Linked DNA regions of Homo sapiens: region 1 is linked to region 2. The links come from fine-mapping of genetic effects on gene expression. A gene starts in region 2. The other region holds a variant in brackets. All regions are shown on one strand. Distances are between the middles of the regions.

The links.
Region 1: its variant is fine-mapped to the expression of ZNF140 in hypothalamus (GTEx, PIP 0.98).

What each region holds. Positions count from the first base shown.
Region 1 is chr12:132,408,197-132,423,540 of GRCh38, forward strand. No RefSeq gene overlaps it. Among named protein-coding and RNA genes, the nearest start is that of MUC8, 59 kb to the right of the region's middle. RefSeq lists a silencer at 6,747-6,885. The variant T/C (reference allele first, on the strand shown) is at 7,618.
Region 2 is chr12:133,072,047-133,087,390 of GRCh38, forward strand. ZNF140 (zinc finger protein 140) reads left to right here and starts at 8,877. Exons shown (of 5, transcript NM_003440.4): 1 at 8,877-9,026; 2 at 9,227-9,283; 3 at 11,057-11,183; 4 at 11,420-11,515. The coding sequence starts at 9,275. RefSeq lists enhancers at 7,906-8,595, 8,666-8,865.

The sequences.
Region 1 (15,344 bases), 660 kb before region 2:
AAGACAAGAACATACTCTCTGTGGCTCGAGTAAAGATAGTGGCGGGGCCGGGAAGACAGCCCAGCCCCAAGTCCCCATCGGCCTCCGTGCCCGGAGACCAGAGACCCCTGTGTGGGGGTCCCAGCACAGAGCCCAGCTGCCTTTGTAATGAGGGGAAACCAGCGGAGCAAGGGGTTGGGAATAGAACCAGCTGTAAGAAATGGTCCAAATCCCCAGGTAGAGGTACCAGGGGGTCAAGCCCCCTCACCTGGTCTCTGCCCAGATGTTTGCTTCCAGGAAAGCCATGCGTCAGTCAGCTGGGACCCACCGAGTGACAAACAGCCCCTCATCCAGAGGCACAGAACAACCGGCCCACAAAATGGCAGAGCAAGCTCAGTGTCACGTTGTCACCACCCCAGGACCCTGCCAGAGGACAGACAGGACAAAGGTCCTCAGAGGGCCACACATGACCACTGCTGAGAGACGCTGGTCACGTCCACTCAGCCAGACCTGTCACAAGGCCCCACAGGAAGTGAAATTCCATCTGCATCCAGCGTGGGAAGAGGCAGAACATTCAGGGAGGACCACCAGGGCCAAATGTCCACACGGCCCCAGGGGAGCAGGCAGGGCCTGGGAGGCTCAGACCCCGGTTCGGGCCAGAACATGGACCCCAGGGCCAGCACCACCCGGAGCCCCGAGGGGCTGCCCACAGTCTAGCGAGTAACGGCTGAGGGGCTTGGAGCCTGTGTGCCTCAGTTTCCTCACCTGTGACGTGGGCCATGATAGCACGCCCCTCACAAGTGTCCTGGGGGCCAAGTGAGTTCAGAACACTGCTCAGAGCTCACCTGCTGCTGATGACAAGTCGTGTCACGGGACCTGTTGTTTTATGACACACTCAACCCCACCCCACATGGAGCCCCGTCCAGTCAGCCGGCCCCGTTCTCTGCTGAGCCACCAGCCCTGGGGGTGGCCGGGCCAGGCAGGAGCCCCACAGAGGCCCCTCAGTGAGCTCAGCGCAGGCCCAAGCACCGCCGGTTTCTCTGCCGTCCACACCGTCCCCAGACGGGCCGCACCCCTGACGCAGGGAGGGCTTCCAGGCTGCACTCGCCCTCGCCCTCCCTGCCTCTCGCTCAGAACCTGTCCTGCCCAGCCCTGCATCCCATGTCCCTGCCTCTGGTCCCGAGCCCTGCCTGCCCCCTCCAGCCCCTCACGTCTCTAAGCCTGAACCTCCCTCACAGGCGTCACTGCAGCCACCCCACAAATCCTTCCTGATACCAAAGGCCAGCAGGCTGGGGGACATTTGGGAGGGGCCGGGAGCAGGCCCTGCCTTTGCTGCAGCCTGTGGGGGGCTTCTGGGCGGGAGAGGTAGGGGCAGGCCCGGGGGATGGGAGCTGTGGGGCCAGCCCTGATCCGCTCCTCCTGCTGGGTCCTGGACACAGGATCGATTTCTCCCTGGGATTTGGGCGTCCGAGTCAGTGGGGACCTGTGCCCCCAAACCCCCTCAGCAGCAGAACGCAGAGAGCCGCGGTGCCATCTCCACCCTGGCTTTCCAGGCCCTGGAGGGCAAAGGTCAGTCAGATGGAGGGAGCCCGGGGTCCCTGGCAGGAGTGTGGCCAAGTCCCAGCAGCGCTGCCCCGAGAGAGGAGGACGGCGCAGCTCCATTGCTCCACCTGCCCGGCTCAGGGATGGAACCCAGAGCTGCCACCGTCCTGTGGGTGACGGCAGAACATCTGGCTGCCGGGTGGCCTCCGTAACCGCCACACACCTGCCTCTGCTGGAATCACCTGAGGCTCTGGTGCCTCACACGGATTGGCCAAAACAGGGAGCGGAGCCGGGAAGGCCACGGACATCTGTGTGGTGTCACGAACAAGGTCCGGCCACGTGTGTGGGAGACGCGGGCGCCGAGGCAGGCGCCAAACTAAGCCCGGCCACCAAGGGGACGCCCACACCCCACCTCCGTGGTGACCCCTGAACCCCCGGAGCTCACCATCCACACCAGGGTGAGAGGAGAGGATGGGCAAGGAACCGTCAACCAGAGGGGATGCTCAGCTGCGTGCACGTGGCGGGTGGTACATGGGGGCTCGGGGAGGCACCCAGAGAGGATGCGTGTGTAGTGCAGAAAATGAGGCTTTGGGGCCCGCACACCGAGCCCAGGACAGCACGGAGGCGGGAGACACTGCCAAGCCCCCCTCACCCTCCTTGATGGACGCCCCAGAGTCTCACCCTATCCCCTCCCCAGCTCAGGGCGACAGGAGCCCAGCCACGTGCGTCCCGGGGCCGCCATCACAGCCCCTCAGAAGCCGCCTTAACACGGACTAATCCTGCAGACCTGGAGCTGGGAGCCGAGGGTGGGGCCTCTGCAGGGCCGGGTGCTTTGAGGCCCTGAGGGAGAATCGTCCAGGGCCCGTGTCTGCCGCTCCCAGGCTGGTCAACACCTTCGCCTTCCCCCAGCATCCTCCCTGTGAGCACATCTGTCCAAATCCTGATGTCAGGACAGGGTCACACTGGTCTACGCTCCACTCCGGAGCCAGTTACTTCGGCAGCAGCTCTGTCCCCGTGAAGCCACGTGTGGAGGAACGGGGGTGAGGATGGCAAAGGACCTTTTTGGGGGATGTGATTCAAGCCGTAGAGAAAGGAAACCCCAGCAATGACTGAGTTGGGATTTCTCACCACCTAGAGCGTGGGATCGAGCTCTAGAGCCGCGGAGGCAGGGATGGGAACCGAACTCTTGTCCACCGAGGAGCCTGGGAGGAGGCGGCCACACCACACCCCAGCCTTAGAGGGACCTGGCCTGGCCCTCGGTCCGCAGGGGGGCCTTGGGTCACCCCCAAGGCATCCTGCTTCCTCCCACCCCCGGGCAGTACAGGCCACTCCTCCCTGGGCCTGTCGTCCTCCCAGGGCTGCAGGGTGGACCCCCTGGGGGGTCTAGAAGGGCTGATCCAGGCCCCTGTGACCAGTTCAGGGAGCACCTCTGGGGTGGCGGTGCAGGGCTTTGTACTTCTCAAAGCTGTCGGGTGGTTCTAGCACGTAACCAGGGTCTAGAACCCCACACACACACAACACAGGCCCACATGCACCCGTGCACATGTGCACACACACACCTCCCCCCCACACATACACGGGCACCCACACACACACACAACACAGGCCCACACGCACCCGTGCACACGTGCACACACAGCCCCCCACACACACACGGGCACCCACACACACACATGCACACACACAGGCCCACACACACACACGCGCACACACACACAGGCCCACACACACACACATGCACACACACACGCACACACACACAGCCCCCCCCCACACACACACACGTGCACACACAGGCCCACACACACACACAGGCCCCCACACACATAGGCACACACAGACACACACACAGGCACTCACACACACACAGGCCCACACACACACATGCACACACACATGCGCACACACACAGGCCCACACACCCACACACACACACAGGCTCACACACACACAGGCTCACACACACACATGCAGGTGCGCACACACAGGCACACGCACACTCAGCAAATCAAGTGACTTCCCAGAACAAAGAACATCCACTTTAAGATAATTTGCTGCCTAGACGGTGAAGAGCCAGCATTTTTCAAAAGGCAGCTTCATTTAATCACAAACAAAACTGAAGTGCTGCCCCACGGCCTGTGTGGTGAGTGGAGGAGGGATGTGGACGCCAGGCTCTGCCCTGGCCGGCCCTGACTGTGGAAAGGAGCAGCTTGGGAGGAACTGCCTCCTCGGACAGGGCTTGGCCAGTCAGTTCCACTGACCAGAGGGTCTGGGGTATTGGCTATGGGATCTGGGGGAGTCCAGCCGGGGGTCACAGGGTCTGGGGGTGACAGCCAAGAAGGCTAGGGGTGTGGGCAAGGGGGTCTGCGGTGTCGGCCAGGGGGTCTGAGGTTTCCTGCTGGGGAGTCTGGGGGCCAGGGGGTCTGGGATGTGGGCCACAGGGTCTGGGGGTGTCTGGCTGGGGGTCTGAGGGTGTCAGTCAAGGGGTGCATGGGTGTCCGACTGGGGTCTGGGGTGTCAGTGGGGGCCTGGGATGTCAGTGGGGCCTGGGGTGTCAGTGGGGTCTGGGGTGTCAGTGGGGTCTGGGATGTCAGTGGGGTCTGGGGTGTCAGTGGGATCTGGGGTGTCAGTGGGGTCTGAGGTGTCAGTGGGATCTGGGGTGTCAGTGGGGTCTGAGGTGTCAGTGGGATCTGGGGTGTCAGTGGGGTCTGGGGTGTCAGTGGGGTCTGGGGTGTCAGTGGGGCCTGGGGTGTCAGTGGGATCTGGGGTGTCAGTGGGGCCTGGGATGTCAGTGGGGCCTGGGGTGTCAGTGGGGCCTGGGGTGTCAGTGGGGTCTGGGATGTCAGTGGGGGCCTGGGATGTCAGTGGGGTCTGGGGTGTCAGTGGGGTCTGGGGTGTCAGTGGGATCTGGGGTGTCAGTGGGGTCTGAGGTGTCAGTGGGATCTGGGGTGTCAGTGGGGTCTGGGGTGTCAGTGGGATCTGGGGTGTCAGTGGGGTCTGGGGTGTCAGTGGGGTCTGGGATGTCAGTGGGGTCTGGGGTGTCAGTGGGGTCTGGGGTGTCAGTGGGGCCTGGGGTGTCAGTGGGATCTGGGGTGTCAGTGGGGTCTGGGATGTCAGTGGGGTCTGGGATGTCAGTGGGGGCCTGGGATGTCAGTGGGGTCTGGGGTGTCAGTGGGGCCTGGGGTGTCAGTGGGGCCTGGGATGTCAGTGGGGTCTGGGGTGTCAGTGGGGGCCTGGGGTGTCAGTGGGGCCTGGGGTGTCAGTGGGGCCTAGGATGTCAGTGGGATCTGAGGTGTCAGTGGGGGTCTGGGGGTGTCAGTGGGGGCCTGGGATGTCAGTGGGGCCTGGGATGTCAGTGGGGCCTGGGGTGTCAGTGGGGCCTGGGGTGTCAGTGGGGGCCTGGGATGTCAGTGGGGCCTGGGATGTCAGTGGGGGCCTGGGATGTCAGTGGGGCCTGGGGTGTCAGTGGGGCCTGGGGTGTCAGTGGGGTCTGGGATGTCAGTGGGGTCTGGGATGTCAGTGGGGGCCTGGGATGTCAGTGGGGTCTGGGGTGTCAGTGGGGCCTGGGGTGTCAGTGGGGCCTGGGATGTCAGTGGGGTCTGGGGTGTCAGTGGGGGCCTGGGGTGTCAGTGGGGCCTGGGGTGTCAGTGGGGCCTGGGATGTCAGTGGGATCTGAGGTGTCAGTGGGGGTCTGGGGGTGTCAGTGGGGGCCTGGGATGTCAGTGGGGCCTGGGATGTCAGTGGGGCCTGGGGTGTCAGTGGGGCCTGGGGTGTCAGTGGGGGCCTGGGATGTCAGTGGGGCCTGGGATGTCAGTGGGGGCCTGGGATGTCAGTGGGGCCTGGGATGTCAGTGGGGCCTGGGATATCAGTGGGGTCTGGGGTGTCAGTGGGGCCTGGGATGTCAGTGGGGCCTGGGATATCAGTGGGGTCTGGGGTGTCAGTGGGGCCTGGGGTGTCAGTGGGGGCCTGGGGTTGTCAGTGGGGCCTGGGGTGTCAGTGGGGTCTGGGGTGTCAGTGGGGGCCTGGGGGTGTCAGTGGGGGTCTGAGGTGTCAGTGGGGGTCTGGGGTGTCAGTGGGGGTCTGGGGGTGCCATGTTAACCACTGTAGGCTGTCCTGCAGAGCTGCCTGGGCTGTTTTAGGACGTTGAGGTTCCAGAGCAGCAGGAGGTTCCCAGAAGACAAGCTGGGCTCCAGCACCAGGACCTGGGGTTTCTGGCCCAGAGACCACAGCCCTGTCTGTGCCGGGCGCTGAGGGTACGGCAGGTCGTCCTGGCGGCCTTCTTGCCAGTCCTGTCAGGTATCAGGAGCCTAAGAGGCTGGTGAGGGGCTGCCTGCCCACCCTTGCTGACTCCGGAGGGTAACCCAGCTCCTGCCCCGTCCTGGCCCTGCTCTCCGGAGTGGGCTGTGGTCGGTGGTCCAGGGCCACAGAGCGCTGCTACCCTCTAGTGGGTACCTGGGGTCCTGCAGCTCAGAACCGCGACCCCAGCCCACGGGAGTCTCTGCGTCCACGCACCTGGACGTCCTCCTGCGGCAGGCGCCCCGGAGGCCCCTCCAGTGTTCCCACCTCAGCTCCCGGGAAGACCTCAGGGTCTCCCCCCACCAAGGCGCTTCCCCCAAGGGCCCTCCCTGCAGCCCGGGACCCGCCACACCCTGTCCCAGCTGCCGCCCCGTGCTCGGTGATTTCGAAGGACACTGGCTGAGGTTTCTACACTATCCCTCAACCGGGGGCTCCTCCAGCGACCACAGTGGAGTGGAGGGTCTGGGGCCTCCGTCCAGGCTGCGGTGGTCCATCCCTCTGCAAGCCGCTGTTTCTGGGCTCCACGCTCTGGCTTCGGAAGTGGGAGCGAGTGTTGAAATCCAGCCACCTTCGGGGGAAGGCCAGTAGCTGGGGTCCCGCCCTGCAGGCCTGTCCCGGCGTACAGAGCAGGTGACAGCTTCCAGGAGAAGGTGTGTTCTGGGGCTTGAAGGTGCCGGCGTGCAGGGAACAGCAGGTCACAGAGCCCCTGGAGACCCAGGCAGGAGGCAGACCCCACCTAGGCCCGGGTCGCACGCAGGGCAGGGCAGAGGCTGTGGGAGCCGGGAGGAGGCCCGGGGTCTGGGGAGCCCTGCCCCACCCCAGGGAGCTGTGGAGCACCCCCGACCAGGCGTGGGTGAGGCTCTCCCCTCGTTTCACGGCCGCCATGCACAACCCGGGGCCCCCGTGGGTCTGGGGCCAGGACCCAGTTTCCCTGAGGTTGAGTCTCTGTGATTTCTCCTCCAGCAGAGAGAAGGGCCTGGGCCTCGGCACCTGCACCCCTGGCACAGGGACAGTTCTGGGAAGGGCGTGGTGCCCGTCCTGGTGGCTGGAGGACGGGACTGACCCTCTGGCCACTAGGGGTCTCTCTTGCTCCGCTCTGTGCCAGAGCCGTCGCCAGGAGCCCTGGGATCCGGAACTGGGGCAGAATCCAGGAGCAGGGTGGGCCCCGAGCTCTCAGGCAGCGCTGCGGCTCCGCCCACGGCCCCTGGCAGAGTCACTCAGCCCCAGGGGCCCGAGGATGCCCCCACACACACCTGGCATGGTCGGGGTCTCTACACCTGGCATGGGGCTCCCCGAGGCTGGCTCAAGGCTGGTGGGGCCAGGGAGTCTGCATTCCTGACGTGCTCCCAGGTGACGTGGATGCTGCTGTTGAGGGACCCCAGCTGGAGAAGCCCGGTCCCAGGTGTACCCCCCTCCCCACCCCGGCAGCTAGGCCTCTGCCTGAGAACCGCCTCAGGATCTGTCCCTGCCCAAAGTGCTTCCCCAGCTCTACGGGTACAGACTCCTGGTGCTCTCCTGGCCCTGCACCTCTCCACCCTCTGCCAAGGGTGTCCCGTCCCATAGCCCTGAGGCAGCAGCTCCCTCTCGGATGAGCCACACCACCAGCTCCGTCTCCCGTGCCCTGGGGTCCTGGCAAGTGTCCTGGGGCCGGCGGAGCTGCCGCCCCATCCTCAGGCTGCAGAGGGTGACACGGCCATTTGTCCAGGCTCCCCACCAGGCCCCTGCAAGGACAGTGCGGAAGGTCGGCTGTGGTGGCCTCTGGTGAAGGATGTCCCCTCCCCCAGGAAGTCAGGGGCCCCT[T/C]GCCCTCACTGTAGCAAACACACACCCGGGACCCTCTCCCAAAGTCACGGCCACAGCCAGGCTGGGGAGGGCACGGCTCCCACCCCACTGGAGGACGGGGCTGCAGGGCTGTCACATGTGAGAACCTGGTCACGGTGGCGTCTCTGGGGACCAGGCAGGAGTGTCCAGAGAAGAAAATAGACTCACTTCCCATCGTTTTCCCTTTTCTGCAGCTTAAGTTATATTTGACCCAAGGCCAGAGCTCAGTGAGGTGCCCTGGCCTTTTCAAGGAGAGGACGTATTCATTGCGCCACTCCAAGTTTGCCAAGTGCAAATGGCTGCTCTCATGACCGCCGCTGACTGGCTCCCAGCACGGCTTGAGCTGTTCTCTAAAAGGACGTCAGGCCAGCCTAATGATTAAGGCCAGCTCGGGGCAGGTGGGTGGCCTTCCCAGGCAGGACCGCCCTAGCAGCCTGGCCCCAGAGCCCTGGAAACCTGGTCAGCAACTCTGTCCTGGCCTCCCAGAGAGGCCCCCATGCCCGGGGGATCCGAGTGTCCCGGCTCCCGGCTGCCTAACGAGCCACCTGGAACTTAGTAACAGCCCACCCCATCCTCGCGAGTGAGAAGGATTCTTGGTTACAGGTGAGCCACAGCCCACCCAGCTTCGAGCCAGGGCAGGGGCCATCTCCAGATGTGGGGAGGGGTGCAGGTCCCGGGTTCTGAGGTTTGGAGGAGCACGTGGGGACACGGCGGCAGCCGTCTCTGGAAACACGACTGTCTGTGGTTTGAGGAACGCGTTGCCACTTCCCGATCCCGGACAGAGCCTTCTGCTGGACAACAGGCCACAGACGCAGCCAGTGCCCCCAGCCTGAGACCCCCACTCAAATCCAGCAGACCCTGAGGAAGGAGAGCTCAGGCCGAGAGAGGAAGGGAGGGGGCCCGGTCAGGTCTCTGGAGTTTAGACCTCATCCCTAGAGGGAGGGGGGCAGCAGAGGGTCCTCCCTCCCCACCCCACAGTGGGCTCCTACAGCAGGAGAGGCCTCTAAAAAGACTGATGGCCGGCAGCACCCAGTGTGGGAAGGGCCCCACACCCCGGGGGTCAAGGCCAGAGGGCGCAGAATGGCCCCTGAGGGATTATAGCCCGGGGCCCTGACGCTCCCTTGCTGCCTAGTGCTACTGCCTTGGCCCACCCCTGCCAGCCCCCAACACCCAGGGGTCCGCATGGAGCCCCCCACCCCCTTGCTGGCGGCAGCCCCAAAGAGGCAGGGCAGGGGGTTCTCAGCCAAGGCTGACCAGTAGCTCAGCGGGGCCCCGAGTCCCGCCGTGGCCATGCCACCAACCTGGAACCAGGCCTGGTGGGCAGGAGGTAGAAACGGACAGATCCCACCTACCTCTGCCAAGACCACACGCTGAAGCCAAACGCCTCCCACCCACCCAGCCCCACGGTGGTCCAGCCACCGTCCCGGTCTCTGCATCAGGGTCCTCTGTCCCAGCACAGCCAATAGCTTGAAATGACACCTCCACTACGTTGTTCACAGTGCTGGGGTCAGGGACTCAGGGGGCCTGGCTGGGGGGTCCTCACTGGGGTCTCTCGTGTTGTGCCGCTGGCCAGGGCTGTGTCCTATGAGGGTGACTGGGCCGGACGTGGGAAACCACTGGCCCAGTTGCTGGCTGGGCACTCCCTGGCTTGGTGGGGGTCTCCCCAAGGTCCCCCACACAGTGGTCCCGGGGTCAGAATCCTCAGGCAGTGGCCACCCCTGCAGTGCAGTGGCTCCAAGAACCAGGCAGAGGCCTTGGGCCTTTCAAGAGCCGGCCGCGGGACTAAGCCCACAGTGTCACCCCTCCACGGTCCACAAAGTCAGGAACGGCCGGACCCAGCTCTGTGGGAAGCATGGCAAAGCCAATGGGTACAGATTTCAGCACCGCCCCAGCCTCCTGCCTGTCCCCTGCCTGTCCCCTCCTCCCACGGCCCAGCCTCCTGCCCAGCTGGAGCTGAAACCAACACCTCATGTGCTTAGACCCACAGCACCTTCCTGCTTGCAGGTGAAAGCCCGAGCCAGGGCCTGCAGAGCCTGCGGGACCGGCCCAGCTTCCCCTCTGGCCTCTCACTGTGCTGCCCCGGCCGTGGCTGCACCACCTGCTCTGCTGCAGACACTTGGAGCTCTCCCACCGCCAGGCCCTTCCCCGCCTGCTCCTCCTGGCTCTCCATGCGGCCAGATCTCGCTCCGTGCGATCCGTGTGTCTGGCGTGGTCTCGTGCACACCTTTGCTTCCCATCTACTCTGTCCCCACAGGGATCTGAGGCAGTGGGACTTGTCCTCTGGTTTCCAGCTACTTCCCCAGCAGCTGGAAGGCTGCCTGGCACTTACAGGCAGAGCATCCCTCCTGCAAAAATCCAAAATCAGAACGCTCCGGAATCTGAAACTTTTTGCGTACTGGCATGAGCTCGGATGAAATGCATGAAATGCCCATTGGAAGAGTTTGCATTTCAGAGTGGATTTTCAGATGAGGGATGCTTAACTGAATAAGTACAAGTCAAATATCTAAAATCAAAAAAGATTACAGGTGCGGTGGCCCACACCTGTAATCCCAGCCCTTTGGGAGGCTGAGGTGGGAGGATTGCTTGAGCCCAAGAGTTCAAGACCAGCCTGGGCAACATAGTCAAACCCTATCTCTACAAAAAATAAATGACTAGCCAGGTGTGGTGGCACGTGCCTGTAGTCCCAGCTACTTGGGAGGCTGAGGTGGGAGGATCGTTGAAGCGATCAGGTCAAGGCTGCTGTCAGCTGTGATTGCACCAGTGCACTCCAGCCTGGGCAACACAGCAAGACCCTGTCTGAAAAAGAAAGAAAGAAAGAGAAGAAGGAAGGAAGGAAGGAGAGAGAAAGAGAGAAAGAAAGAGAAGAAAGAAGGAAGGAAAGAAAGAAGGAGAGAGAAAGAGAGAAAGAAAGGGAAAGAAAGAAAGATGGAAGGAAGGAAGAAGAAAGAGAGAAAGAAAGAAAGAAAAGAAAGAAGGAAGGAAGGAAAGGAAAAAAGGAAGGAAAGGAAGGAAGGAAGGAAGGAAGGAAGGAAGGAAGGAAAGGCAGGCAGAATCCAGGGCTCCTCTAGACCTCTTGGTGGAGAATCTTTATTCTAACAATACCCGCAGTGGTTTGCTGCATGTTGAGTGTTGAGAAGCTCTGTTCCATGAAGTGGGCCCTGGGGAAGGGAGTTCCGTGGGGAGGGGGTGTCTCTCCAACAGTCCACAAAAGAGAAACAGGGAAGAAACACCGAGGGGCTCAGAGGTCAGAGGCTCCTCCTCCATACCCTCTGCAGCCTGAGAGCTGAGTAAGTGTGACGGTGGTTGTGAATTTCTCCAAATATATTGTCTTGTTGATGTAAAGTTACCCAAATAAACTCTGGACCCTGCAGCATTCAGTGCCTGCTGAGATCCCTTCAAAAAGGCATAATTCAGGGCCGGACGCGGTGGCTCACGCCTGTAATGCCAGCACTTTGGGAGGCGGAGGCAGGTGGATCACAAGGTTGAGACCAGCCTGGCCAGCATGGTGGAACCTCATCTCTTCTAAAAATACAAAAAATTAGCCAGGCGTGGTGGCGGGAGCCTGTAATCCCAGCTACTCAGGAGGCTGAGGCAGGAGAATTGCTTGAACCCAGAAGGCAGAGGTTGCAGTGAGCCAAGATCGCACCACTGCACTCCAGCCTGGGCGACAGATGGAGACTCTGTCTAAAAAAAAAAAAAAAAAAAAAAGGCATAATTCAGCTGCCACATGATAACTTTCAATGGGCCCCTCATTTTACCTGCAAACTGAAAGGGGGGTAACTCCGAGCTGCCCTCTAACCTTTTCCTTCCTTCCTCCACTCAATTTTCTTGCCCCAGGGAGATGCTCTGAGCCCTCTCGCACCTCAAACCCTGAAATCCATTCTCCAGCCTGAACCCACAGGGCAGCTTTCTTCTCTCTGCCTCCCCGTCCAGATGTTTTCTGTAGATGACTTGGCGTCTGGCTGTGCCCTCCCAGCCCTCTGCCGCCCACACACTCCGTTTCGTGAAGGCTCTATTCTTCCTGATCCAGCTTCCTAATTTTTTTAATCGGAAATGTTCCAGGAGCTAAATTGGCAAAGACCCTCCTTTATGGATGAAAGGGAAGGAAAACAGAAAGCTTTCACCTGTTCCTGAATCTTGCCGTGGTCAGTCACGGTAACACGTGTTGCCTGACAATCCTTTTGTGAAGGCGGAACAGCCATCGGGTTTTGGACCGCTGGCTGGCTGAGCGCATTCAGGCCGGTTAATTCACCAAAGCACAAAAAGCAAAGCCGGAGTTAAGAGATGCATGTTCCCATGACCAAGAAGCGGAGAAGTGGTATCAACGGGGCATTGTTAGAGCTATTTCAGCTGCAGATGTGTGGAAAGAAGTGAAATTTTTAAAAAAGCTGCATTTTAAGGTAAAGAAAATTAGCCACAGAGGAAACGTGATGCATGGTAAGTATGAATAACAGCATAAAGGCTGGGAATAAATGTATAACCCATATACATGCTCTTGAAAGACTATTCAATGGTCTCTATCAGGGATTATTTGTTTGGTTGCAAAACCTAGAAACACCCTCATAATTGGAAGCCACATTCAACTCAACAAATTTTTTTTTTTTTGAGACGGAGTCTCACTCTGTTGCCCAGGCTGGAGTGCAGTGGCGTGATCTCAGCTCACTGCAACCTCTGTCTCCCAGGTTGAAGCAATCCTCCTGCCTCAGCCTCCCGAGTAGCTGGGATTACAGGTGGCCACCACCACGCCCGGCTAATTTGTATTTTTAGTAGAGACGGGGTTTCGCCACGTTGGCCAGGTTGGTCTCAAACTCTTGACCTCAAGTGATCCACCCACCTCAGCCTCCCAAAGTGCTGGGATTACAGGCATGAGCCACCGTGCTGGGTCTAAAATGTTATTTTAAAAAAGGAATCAATTGTTTTGTTGTTGTTGTTGTTTGGAGATGGGATCTCACTGTGTTGCCCAGGCTGGTCTTGCCCCATAATCAAAATGTTCCAGTGCGTCAGGTAAGAGTTGATCCAGCATCTCAAATGTTGCCACACTCTGCCTCACACAGCTGGGTCAAGTTCAGGCTGCAGAAGAGGCTGCGTCAGGTGACCGGTCAGGCACATAGCTACTTCCTTCCGATGCTTGGCTGTGTCCTGGCCAGTGGTGAGTTCAGAGTGGACCAACATCTCGTCAATTGGGCTTTATGATTTCGGGGCCTGGCCAATGTTGGTGTTTGCCTTTGTGATGACTGTGAGAAAAGACTTTGAAGCAAATCAATGGTGCAAAATATTGAAGGAGAAAATGTCCAACTTACTATTTAAATCCCATTAGCAGAGTCAACATTGCCATGCAAAGGGAGATTGCTAATTTAGTTTATATATATAGAGAGAGACAGAGTTTCGCTCTTGTCGCCCAAGCTGGAGTGCAATGGCACGATCTTGGCTCACTGCAACCTCCACCTCCTGGGTTCAAGCGATTCTCCTGCCTCAGCCTCCCGAGTTTCTGGGATTACAGGCACCCGGCACCACGCCCAGCTAATTTTTTGTAATTTTAGTAGAGACGGGGTTTCACCATGTCGGCCAGGCTGGTCTTGAACTCCTGACCTCAGGTGATCCACCCGCCTCGGCCTCCCAAAGTGCTGGGATTACAGGCGTGAGCCCCTGCACCCAGCTGAGATGGGTAATTTGGGATAACGTCATCGATTCATTAAGACAGGTCCCGCAGATGCATTAACCCACATCAGAGGAAACAGATGAGAGGACGCTAGAAATGGGGCTGGGAATCCCCAAAAATCCCCAGGAGACCCCCCAGACAGGAAACTCCTGTGGATGTGAGATGCCCACTGGACATCGCAGAAGGGCATGGAGCGGGCAGGTGGGTGTGAGAGGCTCAAACCACAGGAGGCATCCAGGCCAGTGAGAGAATAGGCAGGAACAGGCATGGAAGCCACGAGGCCGGGTGAGATGCCGGGGGTGAGTGTGGACGGGGCAGTGAGAGGATAGGCATGGAGGCCATGAGACTGGATGAGATGTCAGGGGATGAGTGTGGATGGGGTATCCACAGAGGAGAGACAGAGGAGAGGCTGTGGGTACCAGGTCCTGTGACCGGATGAGAAGCCAGGGGTGAGTGTGCATCAGGCAGAGGAGAGGCTGTGGGCACTGCGTCCCAAGGCACCCCCTCAGGAGGCGGAGGGAGGAGAGAGAACCAACAGCAACCAGCCCCATAGCAGGAGGACAGTGAGAAGGAGGGGATGGGGGGTGCCTGGAAGTCGAGGGAAGACACCGATTCCAGGGGAAGGACTGGACGGGTCGGCGTGGAATTAGGACACCCGGCCACTGCGACAGGCTCAGGAACAAGCACAGACCTCAGAGGCTGGCTGACATCATTCCTCCTTCGGATCATGGCCTGGGAAGCCCCATGGCATCTCCACTGAGACAGTCACACAGTCAGGCTCCAGGGAGGGGAACAGACTCCACCTCTCAATGGGCAACAGTCAGTTCTGGAAGAGCAGGAGGTCCTGGAAACACCTGGGGAAATGCGAGCAGCAGCAGGATGCTGGACGGCTCAGCCTGGCTGGCCCAGGGTCCAGACCCTCCCACTCCATGACCAGGGGCGGCAGCTCCCCCTGCAGACGGGTATCCTTGCCGGGGCCTGACCTGCCAGTCCACACTCTAGGAGCTGCCACTGGCAACTGTTCCACCCCACACCAATGTGTGTCAGGGTCTTTCTGATGCAAGTTATGGAAACCAACTCACAGAAAACAAGGGGATGAAGGACTTTTAAACACAGGCATCTGGGCGCCTCAGATTTCACAGAGGGCTCAGATAACATCATCAGAGCACAGTCATCTCCGCCTCTCTCTCTCTCTGCCCCTTTCCATCTGTTTCTGCCTCTCTTTCTCTTCTGTTTCTCTGTCCCTGTCTCTTTATCTCTATCTCTGTCTCTGTCTCTCTCTCTTTGCCTCTCTCCATCTGCTTCTCTCTCTCTCCGTCTCTCTCTCTCTTCTCTGTTTCTCTGTCCCTGTGTCTTTCTCTCTTTATCTCTATCTCTGTCTCAGCCTCTCTTTGCCTCTCTCCATCTGCTTCTGTCTCTCTGTGTCTCTCTCCCTCTGTCTAACTCTGTCTTTGTTTCTCTGTCCCTGTCTTTCTGTGTATCTCTCTGTCTCTTAATCTCTATCTCTGTCTCTGCCTCTCTCTCTCTGCCTCTCTCCATCTGTTTCTGTCTCTCTGTGTGTGTCTCTCCCTGTCTCTCTATCTCTGTCTCTCTCCTGTTTCTCTGTCCCCGTCTCTCTGTTTCTCTATCTCTATCTTCGTCTCCGCCTCTCTCTCTCTCTCTCTCCATCTGCTTCTGTCTCTCTGTGTCTCTCTCCCTCTGTCTCTCTGTCTCTCTCTTCTGTTTCTCTGTCCCTGTCTCTCTCTGTCTATCTCCATCTCCATCTCTCTCTCCCTCCTGCCGACCCAGCCCTGTCGGCCTCAGGCTGCTCCACTCCCTCTGGGACCCCAGGGGCCTCTGCACCACCTGCAGGTGCAGACTCTCCCCTCCTGCTCCTGCGAACCCCGCCAAAATCCCAGGCCTGGCTTTCATTGGGCTAGCTTGGATCACGTGCTCATCACTGAGCCAATCACGGTGTCCAGGCGACCCAGAGCCGAGACGGGAGCCAATCAGCAGCGCTGGGTGTTACACTGGGCAGGGCCTGGGTGGCCACGCCCCTCCCCTGAAGAAG
Region 2 (15,344 bases):
CCGCCCGCCTCAACCTCCCAAAGTGCTGGGATTACAGGCGTGAGCCACCGCACCCAGCCAATTTAATTATTAGAGATAGGGTCTCACTCTGTCACCCAGGCTAGAATGCAGTGGTACGATCATAGCTCACTGCAGCCTTCAACTCCTGTGTTGAAGTGATCCTGCTGGCTCAGCCTCCCAAGTAGTTAGAACTACAGATGCACACTACCATGTCTGGCTAATTATTTTTTGTAGAGATGGGGATCTCGCTATGTTGCCCAGGTTGGTCTTGAACTCCTGGCCTCAAGTGATTCTCCTGCCTTGGCCTCTCAAACTGCTGGGATTACAGGAATGAGCCACTATGTCCAGCTCAAAGCACGTTTTATCCAATACATGTTGTTTGGACCTACAACCAAGCAGTTTGTACAAAATAATAATGTTGCATCCCTATATCACACTAAAAAAGACAAATGCCAGAAAGGATAATTCTACAATTGGCACATAAGAAACAGTACAGTAGCTCACACCTGTAGTCCCAGCACTTTAGGAGGCCAAGGTGGGAGGATTGCTTGAGCCCAGGAATTGATATCAGCCTGGGCAACATAGGGAGACCCTGTCCCTACAAAAAATAAAAATTAGCTGGGCAAGGTGGCATAGGCCTGTAGTTCCAGCTACTTGGGAGGCTGAGGTAGGAGGATCACTTGAGTCTGGGAGGTTGAGGCAGCAGTTAGCCATGATTGCACCACTGCACTCCAACCTAGGTGACAGAGTGAGACCCTGTCTCAAAAAAAGTAAAAACATTATATATAGTTATATTAATATCTATAATGTGGGTGAAAAAAATGTTAAAACATACACTAAGGAGAATAACTATAAAACATAGATTTCACTTGCATAAAACTTAAGGTTATAGAAAGTAAAACTGTCTCCTGTAAGTCTTTATTGGCTAATTTATGAAAAATGTATACAATGAAACTGTGCACAGACGTTTACAAAAAAAATTGAATATACTAATTCAAAACATATTTTATGAACCTTTACCTACCATGTACTACCTATAATGTTCCACGCAATAGGGTGAAAGTCAGTAAGAAAAGATTTCTTCTGTCACAGAGTTTATATTTTAACAAGAGACATATATATATATATGTAAATATGTACATATATGTATATAAAAGTGTATGTATATATACATACACTTTTTAATTATATATACATACTTTTAAATATTTGAATAAATGCTATGATAAAACAAAACAGGGTAATATGATACAGATTGATTTAAATGTGAGGAAAACTGCAACTGGTAGTTTTTTAAAAATCTTATTCAAGCTTATTTAATTTTTAATTTTTTTTTTGAGACGGAGTCTTGCTCTGTCACCCAGGCTGGAGTGCAATGGCACGATCTTAGCTCACAGCAACCTCCGCCTCCCAGGTTCAAGCAGTTCTCCCACCTCGGCCTCCCGAGTAGCTGGGACTACAGGTGTGCACCACCACACCCGGCTAATTTTTGTATTTTTAGTAGAGACGGGGTTTCATCACATTGGCCAGACTGCTCTACAACTCCTGAGTTCAAGTGATCCACCCATCTCAGCCTCCCAAAGTGCCAGGATTACAGGCGTGAGCCACCATGCCCGGCCTTAATTTTTAAATTTTAAATTTAATTTTATTTTAGATTCAGGGAGTACTTGGTGCATGTTTGTTACCTGGGTATATTGCATTCTGGTGGAGATTGGGCTTCTAGCATAGCCATTACCGAAATGGTGAACATATAATTGGTAGTTTAATAGGTCTTTTTAAGAAGGTGAATTTGAGTGGAAATACTAGTGTTCTAGCAGAGAGGAGTAACTCGTGAGAATTATCTTAGTATATTTAAGAAACAGAAAGAAGAAAAAACAAGAATTTACAGTATACTCACAGTGATATATACTTGTGTGTCTGTGTGTTTCCTATTTTTATACATAAGCATTATGTGGGACTTTTATTTTTTATACATAAGCGTTATGTGGGACTTTTATTTTTTATACATAAGCATTATGTGGGACTTCTATTTTTTATTTTCTGTTTCTTCCTTCTGCTTATTACTGTTTTTCCATTTTCTTGCTTTCCTGTGGGCTACTTGAACTTATTTTAGAATTCCAGTTTTTAGCTATTGAAAGTATTTTTGAATATAGCTTTGTGGTTTCAATAGGTAGTATGATATATATGCCTAATGTCACAATCTACAGGTATTGATATGTTACAACTTTGACTAAAGTGTAAAAACCTCTCTTCCATTTAGGTCCCTTTACTCTTCTTCTTGCTGTTAGAGACAGGGTCTCACTATGTTGCCCAGGCTGGTCTCAAACTCCTGGCCCCAAGCAAGCCTCCCACCTCAGCCTCCCAAAGTGCTGGGATTGCAGGTGTGAGCCACTGCACCTGGCCCTTTCACTCTTTACTATAATTGTCTTAAGTCTTTCCTCTATATACATTTAAGTCTCACATCAGATGATGTTAAAATTTTTGCTTCAACCATTGAGCATGATTTTAAAAACTCACGAGAAAGGTAGTCTGTTACATTTACCCCAATTTTAACCCACTCCACAGTTTTTTCTGTCTTTTCGAAGTTCCAGCCTATTACCTTTTCAGTCAGAGATGCTCTGTGAGTCAGTCTTGAAGGGCAGTCAACCAATTATTATTTTGCTTCATCTGAAATGCTTTTATTTCTTCTTAATTCCTGAAAGGTATTTTTGGTAGATATAGAATTAGAGGTTGACAAATCTTTCAAGCACTTGGAAAATGTGCCACCTCCCTCTGGCCTCCGTGGTTTCAGATGACAAAGCTACCGTCATTCAAATTGTTGTTACCACATAGGGAATATATTGTTTCTCTCTTAACACTGAATATAATCACAATGGAATTTCAAATAAATTTTGCTAAAGGAGTTTGGCAAGATTATTTTAAAATTTATCTACAGCCAGGTGTGATAGCTCATGCCAGTAATCCCAGCACGTTGGGAAGCCGAGGCTGGAGGATTGCTTGAGCCCAGGAGGTAGAGTTTGCAGTGAGCCATGATTGCACCACTGTACTCCAGCCTAGGTGATGGAGTGAGGCCTGGTCTCGAAATAAATAAATAAATAAATAAAATTTCAGGAGTTTGAGACCATCCTGGCCAACATGGTGAAACCCTGTCTCTACTAAAAATACAAACATTAGCTGGGTGTGGTGGTGGGCGCTTGTAGTCCCAGCTACTCAGGAGGCTGAGGCAGGAGAATCGCTTGAACCCAGGAGGCAGAGATTGCAGTGAGCCAAGATCGCGCCACTGCACTCCAGCCTGGTGACAGAGTGAGACTCCGTCTCAGTAAATAAATAATAAAAAATAAAATTTATCTACAGGGGAAAACACATAAGATAGATAGTCTAGAAAATTAGAAAAGAAAGAGTAAGAGAGGATGTGCCTTACCAGAAAGCTACAGTAATTAAGACCATATAATATTGGCACAGAAATAGGCAACAAGATCCATGTAACAAAATAGAAGATCCAGAAAGAGACCCAAATACAAGGAAAATTAAGAGTGTAGGAAATATTTTAAAAATTGGTATATGAATACCCTTTTTAAACAAGAGAAATTCAAAAGCCAGAAAGGAAAAGACTTTTAGATTTGACTACGTAAAAACTTATAGCACAGGCTGGGCGCAGTGGCTCACACCTGTAATCCCAGCACATTGGGAGGTCAAGGTGGGCAGATCAGCTTAGGTCAGGAGTTCAAGACCAGCCTGGCCAACATGGTGAAACCCCTTCTCTACTGTAAATACAAAAAATTAGCTGGGCCTGGTGGCAGGTGCCTGTAATTTTAGCTACTTGGGAGGCTGAGGCAGGAGAATCGCTGAAACCCAGGAGGAGGAGGTTGCAGTGAGCTGAGATCGCACCATTGCACTCCAGCCTGGGCAACAAGAGTGAAACTCCACTTAAAAAAAGAAAAAAAATTAGTCAGGTGTGGTGGCGTGTGCCGGTAGTCTCAGCTACTTGGGAATCGGAGGCATGCAAATCACTTGGACCTAGGAAGGTGGAAGGTGCAGTGAACTGAGATCGCACCACTGCACTCCAGCCTGAGTGATGGAATGAGACTCTGTCTAGAGAAACAAAATTTTTTAAAAAAGCTTATAGCACACAGCCTCACTATATACAAGGGAAAATATAAGTAATGACTTGTGAGAATATACTGTACTTGCAACATATATACAAAAGGCATAAAATCCCACTATGCAAAGAGCTTCTACAAATTAATAATAAAAACATAGGACTCCTAATAGAAAAGTGATTCATAGCAAAATAATGTTTCATAGCCTTTGCTATGAAAGAAGATAGACACTAGTCAATGATCAGTTTCATATTATCATAAAAAGTAAATTAAAACACGATATCACTTTACCTTACAATATGATAAAGTTAAAATTTGATAATATGTGTCATTCCTTCAGTCAATAAATATTCACTGAGCACCAAGTAGCATAGTAGTCATTATGGGTACAGTGATGAACAAAATGGTGTCTAGACTCATAGTGCTTACAGTCTAGTGATGTAATCACTAACATAATAATCACACGAATGTAAGTACATAATTACAAACATAATTGCAAATTAAGTAAATGCTAAAGAGAGTAAGTCTAGGGTGTAATCACTGGGACCTTACTGATTATAATGGGATCAAAGAACATTTCTTTGAGCAAGACTTGCTTGGGCTGAAATCTAAAGGATGACCTGAAATGAACTAATGAGGTTATGGTGTGAAGGGATAGTCACCTTTTTTTCAGACGGAATTAACGTGCTCAAAGATCCTTAGACACGTGACATTTGAGGAAACAAAGTGCAGTTAGAGAGGAGGAAAGTCATGTAAGAAAAGCTTGAAAAGATGGGAGTAAGATCCTGCAGCCAGTGGACCATGGTAAGGACTTTTGCCTTTACTTAAGAACAATTAAAAGTCATCAAGTTATGTTAAGCAGAAGAATATGAGCAGAATTGCTTTATAAAAATCAGGCTGACTTCGGTGTGAAGAAAAGATGTGGGGAAATGAAGTGAAATCTTTGGCAAGATTCCAGGTTAGAAAGGATAATTTGGACAATATTAATAAAGTTAAACACACACACATCATTCTCTACATGTCCCCCAATTAATTTTCTTCTCTTCCGAACTTGTTTCTTTTCCTGGGTTCATCATCTCAGTGAAACAAAATAGCTATGAGATCTGGGTGAGTCATCTGTAGCCTAACTGGAAGCTGAAACCGGAAGAGTGGACAGGCTGTGGTATAAGAGTCTTTAAAGAAGGAAATTCTGTGAACATATCACCCAAACAAGAAACTTAGCTCTTCCTTCCCTTCCATCTAATTGGATGATATCCAATTCATCACCCAGTCCTTTAGATTCTCCCTTTAAATGGTTTTTTTTTTTTTTGAGACAGAGTCTAGCTCTGTCACCCAGGCTGGAGTGCAATGGTATGATCTCGGCTCACTGCAACCTCCGCCTCCTGAGTTCAAGCGATTCTCCTGCCTCAGCCTCCTGAGTAGCTGGGATTACAGGCGCGCGCCACCACGCCCAGCTGATTTTTGTATTTTTAGTAGAGATTGGGTTTCACTGTGTTGGCCAAGCTGGTCTCGAACTCCTGACCTCGTGATCCGCCCACCTCAGCCTCCCAAAGTGCTGGGATTACAAGCGTGAGCCACCACGCCTGGCCTTAAATTGTTTCTTAACTCATTCCCCTCAATCCATTCTCTGCAACAGTTCAGATTAGTTTCCAGAACATTTAACTATTGCCCCTAGTGGCCTTCTTCCCTTCAGTTCACCATGAACACAGGCTGTGGAATGCAAATATGATTACGCACATCCTCCTTCGAATTTTAATGTGTCTTCCTAGCTTACTGAGCGACATCCAAGCTCCTTCACAAGGACTTTTTTTTCAGTCTCATGTCTTTTCACCAGGCCAGTGAATTTCCTCTTTTTTTGCCCTCTTCCATTTTGTATAATGGGCTTTTTCTTTTTTGTCTCTCTTTTTCATAAACTGTTCTCTCGATCTGGAACAATACTCCTTTGATTCAGTGGGTTGACTCTTCCCTAACCTCGTATTTCAGCATACAGTTGGTGCTCTTCAAGCACAGGGATGTGACTGGCTTGCTTCCCCAAAACCTCTCCTACGTGCCCAGGACAGTGCCCCACACAATGCTGGGAGTAGAGGCGCCCCCAGGTCACTGGGCGTCCAGCCCCTGTAGGTGCAATCCAGCGCCTCTTTCCAGAAGGCTTCTGGGGGAGGGCTCGAGCTGGAGCACATGAAAAACCAGGGCCGCTCCAGCGTTCCTTCTCAGGTAACATGAGACTGCTCAGAGACTGCTCGAGGCTGGGGGAATCCCAGAGGGAGAAGCCATGGCTGTGCCGGTACCAAGTAGAGACTGGGCCGCTCCATAAGGCCACGAGGGACTCGGAGTCACATCCTCTGAGACCACTGTTTCAAGGTGACCTGGGAGCGTTGCAAGGATTCTGGTTATTACAGTTATACGAAGCCAAAGCATCAGGGGTGCTTGAATCAGAGCAACTCCATCTTGTTTTTTATTTTATTTGTTGTTGTTGTTTTGCTCTTTTTTTTTTTTTGACACAGTCTCGCTCTTTCGCCCAGGCTGGAGTGCAATAGCGCGATCTCAGCTCACTACAACCTTCGCCTCCCAGGTTCAAGCAATTCTCCTGTCTCAGCCTCCGGAGTAGCTGGGATTATAGGCGTGCACCACCACGCCCAGCTAGTTTTTGTATTTTTAGTAGAGATGGGGTTTCACCATGTTTGTCAGGCTGGTCTCAAACTTCTGACCTTGTGATTCGCTGGCCACAGTCTCCCAAAGTGCTGGGATTACATGCGTGAGCCACCACGCCCGGCCTGTATTTTTTTTTTATTTTTATTTTTTGAGATGGAGCCTCACTCTGTCGCCCAGGCTGGAGTGCAGTAGCGCCAACTTGGCTCACTGCAAGCTCCACCTCCCAGGTTCAAGTGATTCTCCTGCCTCAGCTTCCCAAGTAGCTGGGAATACAGGCACCCACCACCATGCCCAGGTAATTTTTGTATTTTTAGTAGAGACGAGGTTACACTCTGGCCTGTTGGCCAGGCTGATTGCAAACTCCTGACCTCAGGTGATCTGCCCGCCTTAGCCTCCCAAAGTGCTGGGATTACAGGCATGAGCCACAGCACCCGGCAACTCCATCTTAAATAAGAACTGGGTAAAATAAGGCTGAGGCATACTGGGCTGCGTTCCAAGACCGTTAGGCATTCTAACTCACAGTATGAGACAGCAGGTCAGCATGAGACACAGGTCATAAAGACCTTGCTGATAAAAGTTTACAGTAAAGAAGCCGGCTAAAACCCACCAAAACCAAGATGGCAATGAGAGTGACTTCTGGCTGTCCTCATTGCTACGTCTTCCACTGTCAGAGGCGGTTGAACCAGGGCAACTCTATCTTGAGTAGGGGCTGGTTAAAATAAGGCTGAGACCTGCTGGGCAGCATTCCCTGGAGGTTAAGGCATTCGTAGTCACAGGATGAGACATGAGGCTGGCACAAGATACAGGTCATAAAGACCTTGCTGATAAAACAGGTTGCAGTAAAGAAGCCGACTAAAACCGAGATAGCGATGAGAACGACCTGATTGTCCTCACTGCCCACCAGTGGCTATGGCAACGTCAGGAAGTTACCCTATATGGTCTAAAAAGAGGATGCATGAATAATCCACCCCTTGTTTAGCATATCATCAAGAAATAACCACAAAAATGCGCAACCAGCAGCCCTCGGGGCTGCCCTGCCTATGGATTAGCCATTCTTTATTCCTTTACTTTCCTAATAAACTTGCTTTCACCTTATGGATTCGCCTCAAATTCTTTCTTGTGCAAGATCCAAGAACCCTCTCTTAGAGTCTGAGATCCGGACCCCTTTCCAGTAGCAAAAGGTCTTAGACTGAAGTACTGACTCCACAGTCGTTGTTAAGAATCCTAGTTGTTTAATAGAGGCGGTCTTGGGCTCTTGCTGGGCCGCGGTGTGTTCTGGGAAGTGTAGTCACCTGAGTCTCCAGTTCCTTGTCTCTGGGCCGTGTGTGCACGCCAGCGAAGCACTGTGGGAGTCGTAGTAGGGGAGGAAAACCCTATACCCTCTGGCGTGCGGCGCAGGAGTTTGGGGGAATGTAGTCGCCAGAGCTCTGCGTTGTCTTCCGGCTTTGGGCGTGGCCACGATGCACTCTGGGAGTCGTAGTAGGGGAAGAACGTCCTCCGCTCTTTTGCGCACGGTCGCTAGAGGTTCTGGGAAGTGTAGTTGCCTGAAGCTCGTGTTCTTTGTCTTTCGATGATGTGCGCTTGGCCTCAAAGCACCCTGGGAGTTGCAGTGGGGCGGGGAAAGCCATATGCTCTCTCGCGCGGGGTCGCGGTTGTTTCTGGGAAGTGTGGTGGCCTGAGTTCCACGTTCTTCGTTTCTCCGCTAGTTGTGCGCTTGGCCGCGAGACACTCTGGCAGTTATAGGAACACAAAGGTCTGTGTACTCTTCCGCGGGGGGCCGCGGTTATTTCTGGGAAATGTAGTTGCCTAGGACCCGGGTTCTTTGTTTCTCGGCTCTGGGCGTGGGAGGATAGCCCCTATGCTCTGGCGCACCGGGCCGCGATGGCTCTGGGAATTGTAGTTGTCGCAGGCCCTCGTTCTTTGTCTCCTGGCGTTCTGGGCACGGCAGCGAGGCGCTCTGGGAGTTCCAGTAGGAACGAAAAGCCCTTGCGCGCAGGGCCGCATTGGTTTCTGGGAATTGTAGTTTCTTGAGGCCGGCGGCCTGGTTGGGGTGACGTCGGCGAGGCTTCTGAAGACGCAATTCCTGCGACGCCCGCGGAGGGGCCCTGGGGGGCGGCGCCGAGCGTCTGGCCTGTGTTGGCTGTAGGCAACGAAAGGAGCCCTCCCGGTCTGCGCCGGATGGCCCCGGGCGGTGACTCGGTCCGGAGCCCTGGAACGCTACGCCCACCTGGCGGAAAGCACCACGGAAACGCATCCTTCTGTGGCCACTGTTAGGTGAGGGGGTTCTGGGGAGGCGCGCCGTGGCAGGAAGAGAAAGCCGGCGCCAGTGGTCCAAGCGCGATCTCTCAGGGCGCCCTGCTCTCTACGTGGGAGGCGCGGAGCGGGGGCCACGGGAATCCCCAGTGCGGGAATCTAGTGACTTGGGCGCGGCCTAGCTGGCCTGTTCGCTCAGGGCTCCTTTCTCTCTCTGCCAGGTCTGCCATTTTACACTTTTCTGATCTCCTCCTTCCCTTCTGTGAGCTATGTCTCAGGTAAGCTAATGATTGATAAATATATATATATATATATATATAAATTTTTATTTTTTTTTTAAGAGAGAGACAGGGTCTCCTCCTGTCGCCCAGGCAGTGGAGCGATCATAGCATCCTGTAACCTCAAACTCTTGGCCTCAAGTGAGCCAACCCACTTGGCCTGTTTCCGCTTTTCTTTGTGAAGTGCAGCCGTGTTTTTCAGGACTTGGGACGTGGCTTTCTTTCTCCTACAACCACCTGCCTGGCAGAACCCCAGGACCCTGTCCCTTGTTCCTCCTTTTCAGGTGCTTATACTTAAGTATACATGAAGAGAGTGACAGGAAGCTATCCAGATGTGGGCGGGGTTTCTGACCTGGCTGGCATGTTTTAGGGTGAGAGGGTAGGGTGCCAGCTGTTACATCGCCTCCTCTTTCCCACAGTGTTAGAATGAGGAGTGCTTTACGTTACTCCAGCGCCCCTTTATTCATTTATTCAATATGTTTTTACTGAACCTCTACTTTCAGTGGTTCCCACAGTGTGATCCTTGGACCAGCAGTATCAGCATCATCTGAGAACGTATTAGAAATGAATATTCTTGAGTCCTACCCCAGACCTTCTGAATCAGAAACTGAGAATTTGGCCCAGCAGTCTAACAGTCCTTCCAAGTGATTCTAATGTGCAACTCATTCTAAGTCTTGAGGATGCAGAAGTGACCAAAACAAAATCTCCGAATCCTCAGAGCTCATTTTTCAGACATGACATAAGGAACACATTTTTATTTTGATTTGGCCTAAGGGCTTGGCTGGTAATTGTGCTTCACAGCAGTGGGGATAACAGGGTCAACTATTCAAAATGAGTCCCTCATTTCAGTTCCACTTCTTTATCCTACTTTTTGTCATACTTCTCTCCAAATTCAGAGGTTCTCTGAGTTTTGCTGGGGAATCCAATTTCCACCTCTGCTGCAGATCTTGCTGTGTAGGAAACAGCTGCTTTATTAGTCAACAGTCTTTAATCACTTTTTTATTAAACTTCAAAACTGTAAATTATAACTGCCATCCATCTGGGACTGCTACTAGTTTGAGACATTTTAAATTCCCATTCATGCCTTATAGATCAATGTGGATCACTCAAGTGGTGCAAAACCAGGCTGCAAAGCAAGGGCTTATATATTATTCCCCCTAACTCTGAGGGAAAGTGCTTTAGGTTCTGTCCTGGGAGGTATTACATTCTCTTCTTGCGGAATCAAGATTCTTTATTGCTTATCCTCCTTGTTCTGTGACATTGCTAAAATTACCACTAAGTTTCACAGGTATTTCTTTAGGATTAGGGATAACTGTGACAAACTTGAGACTGTATGCCCCATTTGAAGGGTGGTGCTGTTATCTGCTGTAGCGAATTATTACCCTGAAGAAATTCTGGCTGAATTATATTAAAATAGGCTGGTATTAAGGAAAATATACATTGTTTATTAACATAAAGGAATACTGTAAAATCTTAAGAATTTTTACAACCAATGCCAAAAATCCATATTGTTCATGTGTATAATCCTTTATTTTGAATAAAATTGTAAATTATCTCAGGACAGATAATTTATGTTTTTCTCCTTTTCTCCAGTTATACAACAAAACACAAGAGCTAGGCTCTTCATTATATAATTACTCAGAATTCTGAAAACTCTCACTGTTACTACTTAGACACATTGCCTAACCTCCACAGTGAGACTCATTTTATTCCTTGATGAGGGAGTTTGGGGGCATGCGTGCTGGTCATGCAAATATCTGTCCGTCATTTCAGGGGTCAGTGACATTCAGAGATGTGGCCATAGACTTCTCCCAGGAGGAGTGGAAATGGCTTCAGCCTGCTCAAAGAGATTTGTACAGATGTGTAATGTTGGAGAACTATGGCCATCTGGTCTCACTGGGTAAGTATTCTTCTTCATCTCCCTCAAGGCAAAATTTGACCGTTAGGGTGGCTGTTATAATTATCTGGCTGAATATTCCCAAGAGAGGTATGGGGTTTCTTAAAATTAGTTTTAAGATGGGGACGTAACTGCACCTTATTTTTAGACATTTTAAAAACTTACATCTGACATTTCCTTTGTGGCCCCTCTTAGGATTCAATGACTGATCTTGAATTTATTTCATTTTCTGCAAGCAGGTCTTTCCATTTCTAAGCCAGATGTGGTTTCCTTATTGGAGCAAGGGAAAGAACCCTGGCTGGGGAAAAGGGAAGTGAAAAGAGATCTGTTTTCAGGTGAGTGAGTTGGAAGCTGATGGGGAAATTTTTTAAAACCACTCAATTAGTCAATGAAAAAGGAATACTTTTTAATATGTTGATTGGAAAATTTTCCCTTAAAGATACTAGAGATACGCTAGGCACGGTGGCTCATGCCGGTAATCCCAGCACTTTGGGAGGCCGAGGTGGGTGGATCACGACGTCAGGAGATCGAGACCATCCTGGCTAACACGGTGACACCCCATCTCTGCTAAAAATACAAAAAAATTTGCCGGGCTTGGTGGCGGGTGCCTGTAGTCCCAGCTACTTGGGAGGCTGAGGCAGGAGCATGGCGTGAACCCGGGAGGCAGAGCTTGCAGTGAGTCGAGATTGCGCCACTGCACTGCAGCCTGGGAGACAGAGCAAGACTCCATCTCAAAAAAAAAAAAAAGATACCAGAGGTATAAAGACTGAAGTTTCACTTACAACTCCATAAAACACTACTTCATACCCAATTCTGTTTTTTCTATATTACCTAACAGCTGACATAGTCGACCAGTTCTCACCTTATACTTTCTTTTCTTTCTCACAGGTGTCTTTTTTGTTCCCATTGTTAGTTCTGTCTGGTCTCTGAATTTCATTTCTTTTTGTTTTTTCTTTCCTTTCTTTCTTCAAATGGACATACATTTCTATTGCCTGAATTCAACCTGAGAAAGAAAAAAAAAATTAAAAGTACATATTTTGCTGTTCTATTTAATCACCTTGAAAAGATTAATTCATTACTCTTTGATTAATTGATATTTATTTATTCCTTCACATACACTCTTAATATTTACAGAAATTTTAATCTTGTCAAATCTTTCTCAAGACTTTCTATTAAGTGCTACAGAGACTAGAGAGTGTGCAAAAGTGTAATAACTATCAAGGAATTCATGGCCTAGTGATGTGTCTAAATAGCTTGCATTAGATATCCTCAAATTAGCAGTACAGCAGTGAAAAAAGGAATTTCCAGTTGTCGTTTTAGGCTTGGGTAATTTGGATGCAGATAGTACTAGAGAAACAAAAGACAGAAAAAGGGTCAGTTTTGGAGAAAAGGTGATGAATTCTGTAAGTTCTGTAAATTCTATAGTTGCTTCTATAGCACATGTTTAATGGAGGTACACTGATTTTTAGAGAGAAAAGGAGGAATGCGTACTTTTTAGGAGGCAGCAGCTTAGGACTGATGAAACAGATGTCATGAAAACTGAGCTGTAGCTTTAAGGAAGAGTAGTGGTTCATATGAAATGCTGCGGAGTCCCTTAGGAGAATGTCCAGAAGGATTTGCAAAGGAGGTACTAATGTGGGCTGAAGCAGTGAGATGGAACAGGTGCAGGGAAACTTTGTTTAGTGGGAGCAAATGAGGAAAAATGTCCTTTTTGAATTAAAAAATAACAAAACTGATAAAAGCATGTACAAAGGAAGTGAGGAAAAAGGAAAACATGGAAGTTGCCTCTAATTCTACTACTTTTTTTTTTTTTTTGAGACGAAGTCTCGCTCTTGCCCCCTAGGCTGGAGTGCGATGGCGCGATCTCAGCTTACTGCAACCTCCGCTGTCTGGGTTCAAGTGATTCTGCTGCTTCAGCCCCCTGAGTAACTGGGACTACAGGCACCTGCCACCATGCCTGGCTAAGTTTTGTATTTTTAGTAGAGATGGGGTTTCACCATGTTGGCCAGGCTGGTCTCAAACTCCTAACCTAGTGATCTGCCCGCCTAGGCCTCCCAAAGTGCTGGGATTACAGGTGTGAGCCACTGTGCCTGGCCTAATTCTACTACTTTAACACAGTTCTTGAAGTTTTTATGTATTCCTTCCAGGATCTTATTTTGAAAATTTTTTTCATTGTGAAATATCACACACAGACAGAAGTAATGCATGAACATACATGTACAGCTTAATAAATTATTATAAGGCAAACAGTCACGTGACCAAGGTCAATAAACACAATACTGCTAGGTTCCTTGAGAGCCTTCTGTGTGCTCATCCTAACCCTCCAATAAAGCTAATCATCTCTTTGCTTTTATGGTAAAGTAGCTTCCTTGGTTTTCTTTATTGTTCCATCAGCTCTTTGCATTTGTGTTCACTATAGTTGAGGTTCATGTGTTTGTTAACTTTATATAGAAAGATTTATAATGTATTTATTGATTTGCTTCTCAAAATTATTTTTAAAATGTTTTTGGCTGTGCATGGTGGCTCATGCCTATAATTCCAATACTTTGGGAGGCTGAGTTGGGAGAATCACTTGAGGCCAGGAGTTGAAGACAAGCCTGGGCAACATAGAGAGACCCTGTCTCCACAAAAAAATTTTAAAAGCTAGCTAGGCATGGTGGCATGTGCCCATAGTCCTAGCTACTTGAGAGGTTGAGGTAAGAGAACCACTTGAGCCTAGGAGTTTCAGGCTGCAGTGAACTATGATTGTGCCACTGCACTCCAGCCTGGGCAATACAGCAAGACCCTATTTTTTTAAAAGTTAAAAGAATTTTTAACGTAATTGCTCTAATAGTTTTTTTCATTGTACGATAAGTATACCACAATTTATTCGTTCTACTATTGAGGGCTTCTTAAGTTTTTTGCACATTTAGAGATACTGCAAGCAATGCTGTTACTGTGCATGTATCCTGATACATATTGGCACAAGTTTCTCTGTGGTTTATATCTAGGACTGGAATTGCCAAGTTGGAGGATAATGCACCTCTTTATGTTATTAGATAATGCCAAAATGTTTTCCAAAGACCCTTGACTGACTTATACTCCCGCAAACCCAATAAGTGAATGCCTGTTGGGCATCGTAATTTTCATCTATCAGAAGGGTGTGCAGTGGTAGCTTGTGGTTTAAACTTGCATTTGTCAGGCCATTAATAAAGTTGAGCACCTTTTCGTATGTTTATTGAACATCTAGGTATCCCCATCTGCGAAGTGAATCTTGAAGATTTTTCTCTTGTATCTATTGGATTCTTTTATTGATTTGTAGAAGTTATATATTTTAGATAGAAATCCTTTGCTAATTGTATGTACTTCAAAATCTTTCACATGTGGCTTTTTTTTAACCTTCATAGCTTCTTTTGATGAACAGAAATTCTTAATTTTAGTGTAGTCAGATGTATCAATCTTTTCTTTTATGTTTAGTATTTTTTTAGCCTGTTTAAGAAATCTTTCCCTCCTAAGAGATTATGATGAAGACATCTTCCTATATTTTCTTTTAAAAAAGCCTACTTATTTTGCCATTCACATTTCGATCCATCGTTCACTTTATTTTGTCATGTGAGTTAGTAGTCAACTTTGCTATCTTCTGTATGGAGATCCAGTTATCATAGTACCATTTATTGATAGATCAACCATTTTCCTCACTGTTTTGAAATTAGTTAAATGTCAATTTTTGTGTTTGTATGTTTCTAGGTTCTCAATTCTCTTTCATTTTTCTCTTTGCTCAAATCTATACAGCCTTAGTTACAGATTTAATGATTAACATTTTATTGTATTTGTCTTACCCCTGCCCCTTTTTTTCTCTGAATTATTTTAAGTAAACAGGGCTACCATTTAAGAGTTGTTGCTGCAACCTAGTGTAGATCTAATCATTACCTGAACTATGTAGGCATCCAGGGAGCTAAGGGAGGTAGACAGATTGGAAATAAAGTGAAGAAGTAGACTCAAAAGGACCTGGCGATTGGCTAGATGACAGACATGAAGAAGACTGAGAAGTCGTGGTTGACATTAGTCTTTTTGGTGGTATGATTGTTTCCTTAGTTAAAAAAAAAAGGATCAGCAAGTTTGTAGGGGAGGGAAGATTATATTGAGACTTGTTGAGTTTGGGTCTCTGTGGGATACGAATATATA